3 linked regions of the Homo sapiens genome follow. The protein of the gene in region 1 purifies or fractionates together with the protein of each later gene. This does not show direct contact. Each region holds a gene or a part of one and is shown in the gene's direction. Other genes may lie near its edges.

What was found.
Region 2: the proteins of SYT11 (region 1) and AMDHD1 purify together in Homo sapiens (affinity purification with mass spectrometry; one large-scale study listed by BioGRID and IntAct). This does not show direct contact.
Region 3: the proteins of SYT11 (region 1) and TMEM59 purify together in Homo sapiens (co-immunoprecipitation; one large-scale study listed by IntAct). This does not show direct contact.

The regions. Positions count from the first base shown.
Region 1 is NC_000001.11:155,862,567-155,866,299, forward strand, and holds part of SYT11 (synaptotagmin-11), read left to right. Parts: intron 1-3,733. UniProt on the Homo sapiens protein: Synaptotagmin family member involved in vesicular and membrane trafficking which does not bind Ca(2+). Inhibits clathrin-mediated and bulk endocytosis, functions to ensure precision in vesicle retrieval.
Region 2 is NC_000012.12:95,949,715-95,953,447, forward strand, and holds part of AMDHD1 (probable imidazolonepropionase), read left to right. Parts: intron 1-3,002; coding exon 3,003-3,109; intron 3,110-3,733.
Region 3 is NC_000001.11:54,032,705-54,036,204, reverse strand, and holds part of TMEM59 (transmembrane protein 59 isoform 2 precursor), read left to right. Parts: intron 1-3,500.

The DNA.
Region 1 (3,733 bases):
TACCCTATCTCCATTTTCTAACAATAAAAGTTGATGCATTGTAAATATGTAAGCAGCAGTGGGTTGCCCCCCGCTCCTCCACCGCACTGCTGCAGGGAATAAATCTATGATAGAGCCAAAAGAATTGCCCAGGTGTCTCCTAATCTAAGCCTTCAGATCTCTCTTTATGATCATTCCAAAAAATATGCCTGTCTTGGTAGTTTGCTGTGTTCCTCTTCTCATAGAGACAGTGTTCAGTTTCACTAATGAGTAGCAAACAATTTGCAGGAAAGCACCTGATTGATGAATGGAGAGCCACTTCCTTAGGCTGTGCCCATTCTTAATGGCAACTGAATCCAATTAGTTGTTCAACCAAATATTTACTGAACTCCTATTAGAAGCAAGAGACTCTTGAGGGATTCAAAGATCCATAGGATATTGTTCCTGCCTGCCTTCAAGTAGCTTACTACCAAGGCTGTCTCCATTTTGTGAAAACTTTCCCTAAAAGCTATTTCATTTAATACTTTGAGACTAAACACTATTATTATTCGGTATGGATATAGACATGGTCACCTTGATTTATTTTGTTAATAATGTTTTGCTCCTTATCTATATTATTTTAAAATGTACCCGGGTACAGTGGGTCGTGCTTATAATTCCAGCGACTCAAGAGACTGAGGCAAGAGGATCTTGAGGCCAGGAATTCAAAACCAGACTGGGCAACATAGCACCTTGTCTCTAAAAAAAATTTTTTTTAATTAGCCAGGCATAGTGGCATGGTCCTGTAGTCCCAGCTATTCAGGAGTCTAGGGTAGTAAGATTGCTTGAGCCCAGGAGTTCAAGGCTGCAGTGAGCTGTGATTGCACCACTGCACTCCAGCCTGGGCCACAGAGTGAGACCACGTCTCTAAAAAAATAATAACAATAAATATATATTTTAAATAAAATGTAACTCTTCCTTGGTTAGGCATGGTGGCTTGCACCTGTAATCCCAGCAATTTGGTGGAGACTAAAGCAGAATTGCTTGAGCCCAGGAGTTCAAGACCACCTGGGCAATATAGTGAAGACTCATCTCTAAAAAAAATTTAAAAATTAGCTGGGCATGGTGGCTCATGCCTGTAATCCTAGCACTTTGGGGGGCCAAGGCTGGCAGATCACTTGAGGTCAGGAGTTCGAGACCAGCGTGGCCAATATGGTGAAACCCCGTCTCTACTAAAAATACAAAAACTGGCCAGGTGTAGTGGCATGTGCTGGTAATCCCAGCTACTCAGGAAGCTGAGGCAGGAGAATCACTTGAACCAGGGAGGCAGAGGTTGCAGTGAGCCGAGATCGCGCCATTGCACTCAAGTCTGGGCAAAGCAAGACTCCATCTCAAAAAAAAAAAAAATTAACCAGGCATGATGGCACATGCCTGTAGTCCTAGTTCCTCAGGAGGCTGAGGCAAGAAGATCATTTGAACTGGGGAGGTCAAAGCTTCAGTAAGCTGCGATCATGCATGCCACTGCACTCCAGCCTGAGTGACATGGTGAAATTCCATCTCTGCAAAAAATACGAAAATTAGCCAGGTGTGATGGCATGTGCCTGTAGTCCCAGCTACTCAGGAGGCTGAGGCAGGAGGATCACTTGAGCCCAGGTGGTGGAGGTTGCAGTGGGCCAAGCTTGTGCCACTGCACTCCAGCCTAGGCAATAAAATGAGACGCTGTCTCAAAAGAAATAAAAAAAGTAAGCTCTACCACAATGCCTGGCAGGGACATATAAATTTACACAAAAAATAGCAATTTTATTATTGTCACTGCTATACACAATATTACATGTATATTATGACCAGTGCAGATGAAATTATACCTGCCTCTCATGTAATCTGGACATTATGCTCATAGTATTGTGCTCATGATGCTCATAGGCTTTCTAGAGAAGATAAACCCTTCATCTAGGTTTGGAGGGAAGAAAAAGCCATGGATTGGTTGGAGAGGATAGGAGAGGATACCTCTAATAGAAGGGAAAACAGTAGGCATTATACTAATTATAGTCCAAGATTGTGGTTGCCTAAATTCCTAAGTCATTTTTGACTCATCAAGTGAGGTTATTGACTATAAATAGGTTTTTGAGTCCAAATAGAAATTTACATTTATCCCTGATATATGTAATCATCTTGACTCAATCCTTTTTTTTTTTTTTTTTTTTGAGATGGAGTCTCACTCTGTCACCCAGAATGGAGTGCAGTAGCACAATCTCAGCTCACTGCAGCCTCCGCCTCCGAGGTTCAAGCTATTCTCCTGCCTCAGCCTCCCAGGTAGCTGGGATTACAGGCACCTGCCACCATGCCAGGCTAAGTTTTGAATTTTTAGTAGAGACAGGGTTTCACCATGTTGGCCAGGCTGGTCTCGAACTCCTGACCTCAGGTGATCTGCCTACCTCAGCCTCCCAAAGTGCTGGGATTACAGGCATGAGCCACCGCACCAGGCCTCAATCCTCTCTTTCTAATCTGTGGAGGCTGTTTTGAATTCACTGACTCTTTTGTTCACTGAACGCTTACTACATGCCGCATAGTTCTAGGACGTGGAACTATAGCAGTGAACAAAACAGACAAAGTTGCTGTTTTATTAAGCTTGTCTAGTGATCAAAGAAAGATAATAAATATATGTCAGGATAATAAGCTCCATGAAGAAAATTAAGGAAGGGTGATGGGGACATTATCTTACTTGGGGCAGACAGGAAATATTTCCCTCATCCAGTGAGGTTCGGGGCTCACGATAAGTGAAGCAGTGAGCTGCACAGATGCCTGATACAAGAATGCTTTAGGCCGGGCGCGGTGGCTCATGCCTGTAATCCCAGCACTTTGGGAGGCCGAGGCAATTGGATCACTTGCGGTTAGGAGTTCGAGACCAGCCTGACCAACGTGGAGAAACCCTGTCTCTACTAAAAATACAAAAATTAGCCGGACATGGTGGCGCATGCCTGTAATCCCAGCTACTCGGGAGGCTGAGGCAGGAGAATTGCTTGAACTCTGGAGGCGGAGGTTGCGGTGAGCCGTGATCGTGCCATTGTACTTTAGCCTGGGCAACAAGAGCAAAACTCTGTCTCAAAAAAAAAAAAAAAGAATATTCCAGAAAGAATCGGGGAAATGCTGGAATTATGTCTATTTCCTTTTCTTTTTTTTCCTCGCTCTGTTGCCCAGGCTGGAGTGCAGTGGCACGATTTTAACTCACTGCAACCTCCACCTCCTGGGCTCAAGTGATCCTCTTACCTTGGCCTCCCAAATAGCTGGGACTACAGGCATGTGCCACCATGCCCTGCTAATTTTTGTAATTTTTTTGTGTAGAGATGGGGTTTTGCCATGTTGCCCAGGCTACATTTATTTCCTTAGTTCTCCCTCCCTTCCAAGTGGTCCCCTAAAAAGTAAAGTGGAAAAAACTATAGGCCTAATCTGGACCTTTAAAGCCTAAACCCAATTTAGCCTCAATGAACTTGAGGGAGCGAAGAAACTTGAGGGTCCAATTTTTGTGGGAAAAGATAAGACTAGGGTAAGGGAAACAAAAAAAAAATCTATTTCTCTTTCTCTTTTTTTTTTCTTTTTTTTTTTTTTGAGATGGGGTCTCGGTCTTTTGCCCAGGCTGGAGTGCAGTGGCACGATCTCAGCTCACTATAACCTCCACCTCCCGGCTTCAAGTGATTCTCCTGCCTCAGCCTCCTGAGTAGCTGGGATTACAGGTGTGTGTCACCACACCTGGCTAATTTTTGTATTTTATTTTAGC
Region 2 (3,733 bases), on another chromosome or scaffold:
TCGGGTTTTTTCACTTAGTCATAAATAGTGAAAATCTCACCATAGCAGTAATATGTATCTTTGTAATTTTAATGACTACCTTAAAAAAACACTTTTGGGGGAATGCTTTTTGTTGGTTTCCTTCAATAACTGCCCTCATTATGTCCTCAACAAAGGAACATAAGCCTTTGTTCAAACATAGGTACATCCACAGATGAATGAGAGAACCACACTGTTGAAAGGTAGATAAGCATGGGATTAGTGGGGTCAGGAAGAGGACCCAGTGCCCTCAAAATTCACCTCCTGCACAGACGGAGAATGTTAGAGATTTATTTCTTAGGTTTGACTTTGTTAAAACAACCTCTCTTAAAGCAGTGTCAGTCATTAACTCTTTGCATAAGAGCATTCTCTTTGTTCTTTCCCATTCAAGGGTCAATTTCTAATCCTGCCGGTCCTTTCCACCACCAGATTCACTGCACACTGGGTAGATTATCTAACTGGGCCAGATAAAAGCTGTTAGTGATGAAGAATTGTCTTAATCAGGATACTAAATTCTATTTCAAGACTTAATTTCTTATTCCACCCTAAGTTTATCCTCCCCAAATCTCCCACAATCATTATTTCTTTTCCTATCATAACATCTTCTCTTTCCATCCAGTTTCTTCTGCTCTTCCACTCTTACATTTTGTTAGGTTACCCCAACCACTTCTGTCCCAGTTCGGAATCCCTTATCCTAATTGCTTTTCACAACACATTCCAGCTCTCAGGTTTATAGCCCTCAATCTCCATGTTGGAAATACGAATTTGTTGTAAGTGACCAAGACCTAAATTAATAGTGGCTGAAACAAGATGGAAGTATATTTCTCTCCTATGTGAAAATCCAGACATACGAATGCAGGGCTAGTTGATTGCAATACTCCATGGGGTCCTTAGGAGCCAGGCCCCTGCTGCCTTGCTCTCCCATGCATGGCCCACTTTCTTACACTCACTCCATGACCCAAGATGGCCACCCCATCTCTAGTTGTGGTGTCTGCATTCCAGCCAGTAAGAATAGGAAGAGAAGACAATCTTACCGGCTAGACCTTAGTCTCATAGCCACACCTGGCTAGTGGGAGGTGGGGAAATGTAGTCTGTATTTTGGGTCATCATGTGTCCAGCTAAAATTTAGGGCTCTACTAGTGTAAAAAAGGGAACATTGATCTTGGGGAACAAATGGCAATTGTCTGCTACATATATTTGACGTTTAAAGTTTTTTTAATTGTAAATTTTCATGGGTACATATATATGGGGTACATGAGTTATTTTAAACAGTCGTACAATGTGTAATAATTATATCAGGGTAAATGGGGTTTCCATCATCTCAAGCATTCATCATTTCCTGGTGTTACAAACATTCCAATCGTACTCCCTCAGTTATTCTAAAATGTGCAACATATTATTGCTGATTGTAGTCACCCTGTTGTGATATCAAATACTGGGTCTTATTCACTGTATCTAACCATATTTTTCTAGCCATTAACAATCCCCATTTTTCTCCTCTCCCCTTCTATTCTTCCCAGCCTCTGGTAACCATCATTTTACTCTCTATCTCCATGAGCTCAATTGTTTTCATTTTTAGCTCCCACAAATGAATGAGAATATGCCAAGTTTGTCTTTCTGTGCCTGGCTTATTTCACTTAACATAATGTCCTCCAGTTCTATCCATGTTGTTGCAATTGACAGAATCTCACTCTTTTTTATGGCTGAATAGTACTCCATTGTGTGTATGTATTACATTTTCTTTATCCATTCATTTGTGGGTGGGCACTTAGTGTACTTCCAAATCTTGGCTATTGTGAATAGTGCTGCAATTAACATGGGATGCAGACATCTCTTTAATATACTGACTTCCTTTCTTTTGCATATAGATCTACCAGTGGGATTGCTGGATCATATGGTAGCTCTATTTTTAGTTTTTGAGGAACTTTCATACTCTCCATAGTGGCTGTACTGATTTACATTTCTAACAGTGTACAAGGGTTCCTCTTTCTCCACATTCTTGCCAGCATTTTTTATTGCCTGTCTTTTGGATAAAAGCCATTTTAACTGGGGTAAGATGATCTCTCATTGTGGTTTTGTTTGCATTTCTCTGAAGATCATTGATGTTGAGCACCTTTTCATATACCTGTTTGCCATTTGTATCTCTTCTTTTGAAAAATGTCTATTCAGATCTTTTGTCCATTTCTTAATCAGATTATTAGGTTTTTTCCTATTGAGCTGTTTGAGCTCCTTATATATTCTGGTTTTTAATCCCTTGTCAATTAGATAGTGTGCAAATTATTTTCTCCCATTCTGTGGGTTGTTTCTTCACATTGTTGATTATTTTCTTTGCTGTACAGAAGGCTTTTACCTTGAAGTGATCCCATTTGTCCATTTTTGGCTTGGTTGCCTGTTCTTGTGGGGTATCCCTCAAGAAATTGTTGCCTGAACCAATGTCCTAGAGAGTTTTCCCAAGGTCTTCTTTGAGTAGTTTCATAGTTTAAGTTCTTAGATTTCAGTCTTTAACCCATTTAGATTTGATTTCATTCTTTTGCATATGGATAGCCAGTTTCCCTAGCACCATTTATTGAAGAGACTGTCTTTTCCCCAATGTACGTTCTTGGCATCTTTGCTGAAAATGAGTTCACTGTAGATGTATGGACTTATTTCTGGGTTCACTATTCTGTTCCACTGGTCTATGTGTCTGTTTTTTATGCCAGTACCATGCTCTTTTGGTTACTATAGTTCTGTAGTATAATTTGAAGTCAGGTAATGTGATTCCTCCAGTTTTGTTCATTTTGCTGAGGAGGCTTTGGCTAATCTGGGTCTTTTATGGTTGCCTCGAATGTGGCTAGAGACGCTTTTCCAGACTCAGGTTCAAGATAGAAGCACAGTAAATGTTGACTAATTAACACCAAAGAATCTGAAAACATATTTTAAGTCACTCATCAGATTTCTCACAAGATTTCCCCAAATTTAATAACTATTTCTTGATTTTTCTTCAGAGATGGATTTATAAAAGCTATTGGTCCTGCTGATGTTATTCAAAGACAGTTTTCTGGAGAAACTTTTGAAGAAATAATTGACTGCTCTGGGAAATGTATTCTACCAGGTATTTACCTCTTTTTCAGTAAAGGTCTACAAGTAGCTTTAACAGTTGCTCCTGAAATGTAAAGAGGAAGAGTAACAGCTTATTTTAAAGTCTCAAAATAATATTTAAAAAAAATCATCGTTCCATGTATTGAATTTCTATTATTGAATGTATAGCTGCTTTCAAACATGGTTTCACCTTGAATCCTTATAACTGCCCTGTGTGGGAGGTATCATTATCTATACTTTACAGATTAGAAAATTGAAGCTAAGGGTGAAATATGTTACCCAAGGTTCCTAAACAGGAAACAGACAACCTAGGAATCAAGCCCATTCATTCGACTCCACTTCTTCCCACTCACATGCTGAATAGAAACCAGCTGTGTTGTGTTTAGGTTCAAAAACAGTCAAAAGAACTTTATTAATCCATGGCATAGGAGAGGCTAACAAGGCAGCTGCTGTCTCTAATACTAGAAATACTCTAAATTTGTATAGGATGTGAAACAAAGGATCCAGCTCTGGGCAGAAAAAGAAAAACAAAAATCCTAGAGCTTTCACTGCAGTTCACTTGTATCTTTGATGATTGACAACAGAATCAGTTTATTAACCATCATCTCCTACATTATGTTGTATGGCTTCATATAAT
Region 3 (3,500 bases), about 100 Mb from region 1:
GGTTCAAGTGATTCTTCCTCAGCCTCCCGAGTAGCTGGGACTACAAGCATGCGCCACCATGTCCAGCTAATTTTTGTATATTCAGTAGAAATGGAGTTTCACCATATTGACCAGTCTGGTCCTGAACTCCTGATCTCAAGTGACCTGCCCACCTCTGCCTCCCAAAGTGTTGGGATTACAGGCGTGAGCCACCATACCCAGCCAGAGAGAAGACTTGTAGAACCACTTAATAGTTTAAATTAATTACCACAATATTAAGGATCAGTGCTGCTTTAGAAGCAGCAAGGCTGGGCCAGGTGTGGTGCTCATGCCTCTCTAATCCCAGCACTTTGGGAAGCCTAGGCAGGAGGATCACTTGAGCTCAAGAATTTGAGACCAGCCTGGGCAACATGATGAGATCCTGTCTCTATGAAAAATTATAAAAATTATCTGGGTATGGTGGTGCGTGCCCGTGATCCCAGCTACTTAGGAGGCTGAGGTGGGAGGATCACTTGAGCCCAGGAGGTTGAGGCTGCAGTGAGCCAGGATTGTGCCACTGTACTCCAGCCTGGTGACAGAACAAGACCCTGAGTCTCAAAAGAAAAGAAAAAAAAATGCTGGAGTGTTTGATTTTGAGTTGTTATATTCTGGTATCTAACCCCAAAAGAGATGGGAGACATTGTGACTTCCTTGGTAATTAAAATTTAACTGGCCCAAAAAATATAACTGTTAAGGTAAAGGATTTTTGTTTGGGGGAAAGGCTATAATTTAATTATTCAACTTAGCTTTCAAGAACAGAAAAGTATTTATATAACTAAATATAGAATAATAATGGCTGTCAACATCTAATCCAACTGAAATAAACTTTAGTTTTCTTATGCCTCCAAAGTACCATAGAAAAAGAGAAAAGACAGAAATTAGAATCTAATAATAAGCCATTGGCATGTGCCTAACATGGTGCCTGAACAACTGTCTTATCCTAATAGACTATAAAGATGTTTAAATATATGATTTGCACATGAAAAATGATTAAGATAATATTACACTTAATATTTTTATTAAGGTGATATAATTGATGTAGGTACCTGGAAACTGGGACAGGATAATGTTGATAACTAACATTTATATAGTCGTTAAAATTTACAAAGTATTTTCATGTATCTTCATATTCTTCCCATCTAACTGAAATGTTGTGTCCTTTAACCAACATCTCCTCAGTCTCCTACCTCCCTTCAGTGGCTTCTTTCATGTTGATGTATAAAATCAAACAGTTCCTGGTTGCTGCTTCAAGATCTTTAAATATTGTTAGGTAGAGTTGTGAACATTTTTCTTTCACAGTGCCCCAGAGCCAACGGTCACATGTGAATTCTGAGTTTTATGGAGGCCTGCTATATCAGATCCATCAGATCCACGTCCAACCCATCAACCACTGAACTTTCTTTTTTCTTTTTTTAGACAGGGTCTCGCACTGTCGCTGAGGCTGGAGTGCAATGGCACGATCTCAGCTCACTGCAATCTCCACCTCCCGGGTTCAAGCGATTCTTGTGTCTCAGCCTGCCGAGTGGCTGGGACTACAAGCGCACACCACCACACCCAGCTTATTTTTGTATTTTTAGTAGAGATGGGGTTTCACCATGTTGGCCAGGTTGGTCTCGAACTCCTGACCTCAAGTGATTCGCCTGCCTTAGCCTCCCAAAGTGCTGGGATTACAGGTGTGAGCCACTGCGCCTGGCCTGAACTTGTCTTAAAGCTACTCTCATACTGGAAAAGCTTAAGGTACTGGGGCACCTCCTTGCAGGATAGTTGTTCCCCTGAGGCAACCGTCCAGTAGAACACATCTGAAACATGTGTGAGTAAGCAACTATCGTGACAATCACTTTTAGAACATTTTCATCAGCCCAGAAAGAAAATCTATACTCTTAGTAATTGCTCCCCATTTTCTCCCAAGCAGCAGCAGCTGCACCACCCCTACCCCCATCTCACCCTCCAGCCCTAGATAGCCAATATGTAGTCTCTTGTGACTGGCCTCTTTGACTAAGCATATTTTCAAGGTTCATCATGTTATAGCATGTATCACTTTATCACTTTTTTTTTTTTTTTTTTTTTTGAGATGGAGTCTTGCTCTATCGCCCAGGCTAGAGTGCAGTGGTGCGATCTCGGCTCACTGCAAACCTCTGCCTCTCGGGTTCAAGCGATTCTCCTACCTCGGCCTCCCTAGTAGCTGGGACTACAGGCATGCACCACCACACCCAGCTAATTTTTGTATTTTTAGTAGAGATGGGGTTTCACCATGTTGGCCAGACTGGTCTGGAACGCCTGACCTCAGGTGATCCACCTTCCTCAGCCTCCCAAAGTGCTGGGATTACAGGCTTGAGCCACCACGCCCAGCCAGGATAGCATGTATCACTTTTGATAAACTCTTGAAGGTGCTCTTTATTCAGCATCTTTTAAAAACACCTTTCCAGTATCGGGTACTTCTGTGGAGTTCTTGCTTTATAATCTAGTCAGTTGTCCTGCCAGTGATATCAGCACTTCAGTTTCTAACTTTTGGATACAGGGATTTGTTGCCGTATGAGTAGATTAACAACAGAATCTATACCATTTTTTTTTTTTTTTTTTTTTGTGAGACAGAGTCTCACTCTGTCCCCCAGGCTGGAGGGCAGTGTCGCGATCTCACCCCACTGCAATCTCTGCCTCCCGGGCTCAAGTGATTCTTGTGCCTCAACCTCCTGAGTAGCTGGAATTACAGGCATGTACCACCATGCCTGGCTAATTTTTTGTATTTTTAGTGGAGACCGGGTTTCACCATGTTAGCCAGGCTGGTCTCGAGCTCCTGACCTGAAGTGATCCGCCCGCCTCAGCCTCCCAAAATGCTGGGATTACAGGCATGAGCCACCGCACCCAGCCTATGCCGTTTCTTAGTGGAGACTTTTCACTTTGCTTTTCTGCCTTTAAGAGATACATACGGACAGGCCTAGTGGCTCACACATGTATCCCAACACTTTGGGAGGCCAAGGTAGGAGGATCACTTGAGGCCAGGAGTCTGAGACCAGCCTAGGCAACATAGCAAGACCCCATCATTTAAAAAAAAAAAAGAAAGAAAAAAAAAAGAAAGAAAGAAAAAAGAAAAATTAGCTGGGCATGGTGGTGCATGCCTATAGTCCTAGCTACTCAGGAGGCTGAGGCAGGAGAATCACTTGAGCCCAGGAGTTCAAGGCCTAGTAGTGAGCTATGATCACACCACTGCACTCCAGCCTGGGTAACAGAACAAGACCCCGTCTCTTTAAAAAAAAAAAAAAAAGAGACAGAGACATTCATACATATATCTAAGTCTACCTACTCTCAAAAGATGCTAGATATTACTATTATTCTCCAATGAGTTTTATGACATTTGCAGTGATTCTGTTTTATGCTTTCATTCTTTTAGTGTCTTCTTGTATATGGTATTAACAATTAAGGAACTTTATATATTTATGAAGACCCTTCTATCAGTGTGAGAGCATTTCATGCATATTCTTTGT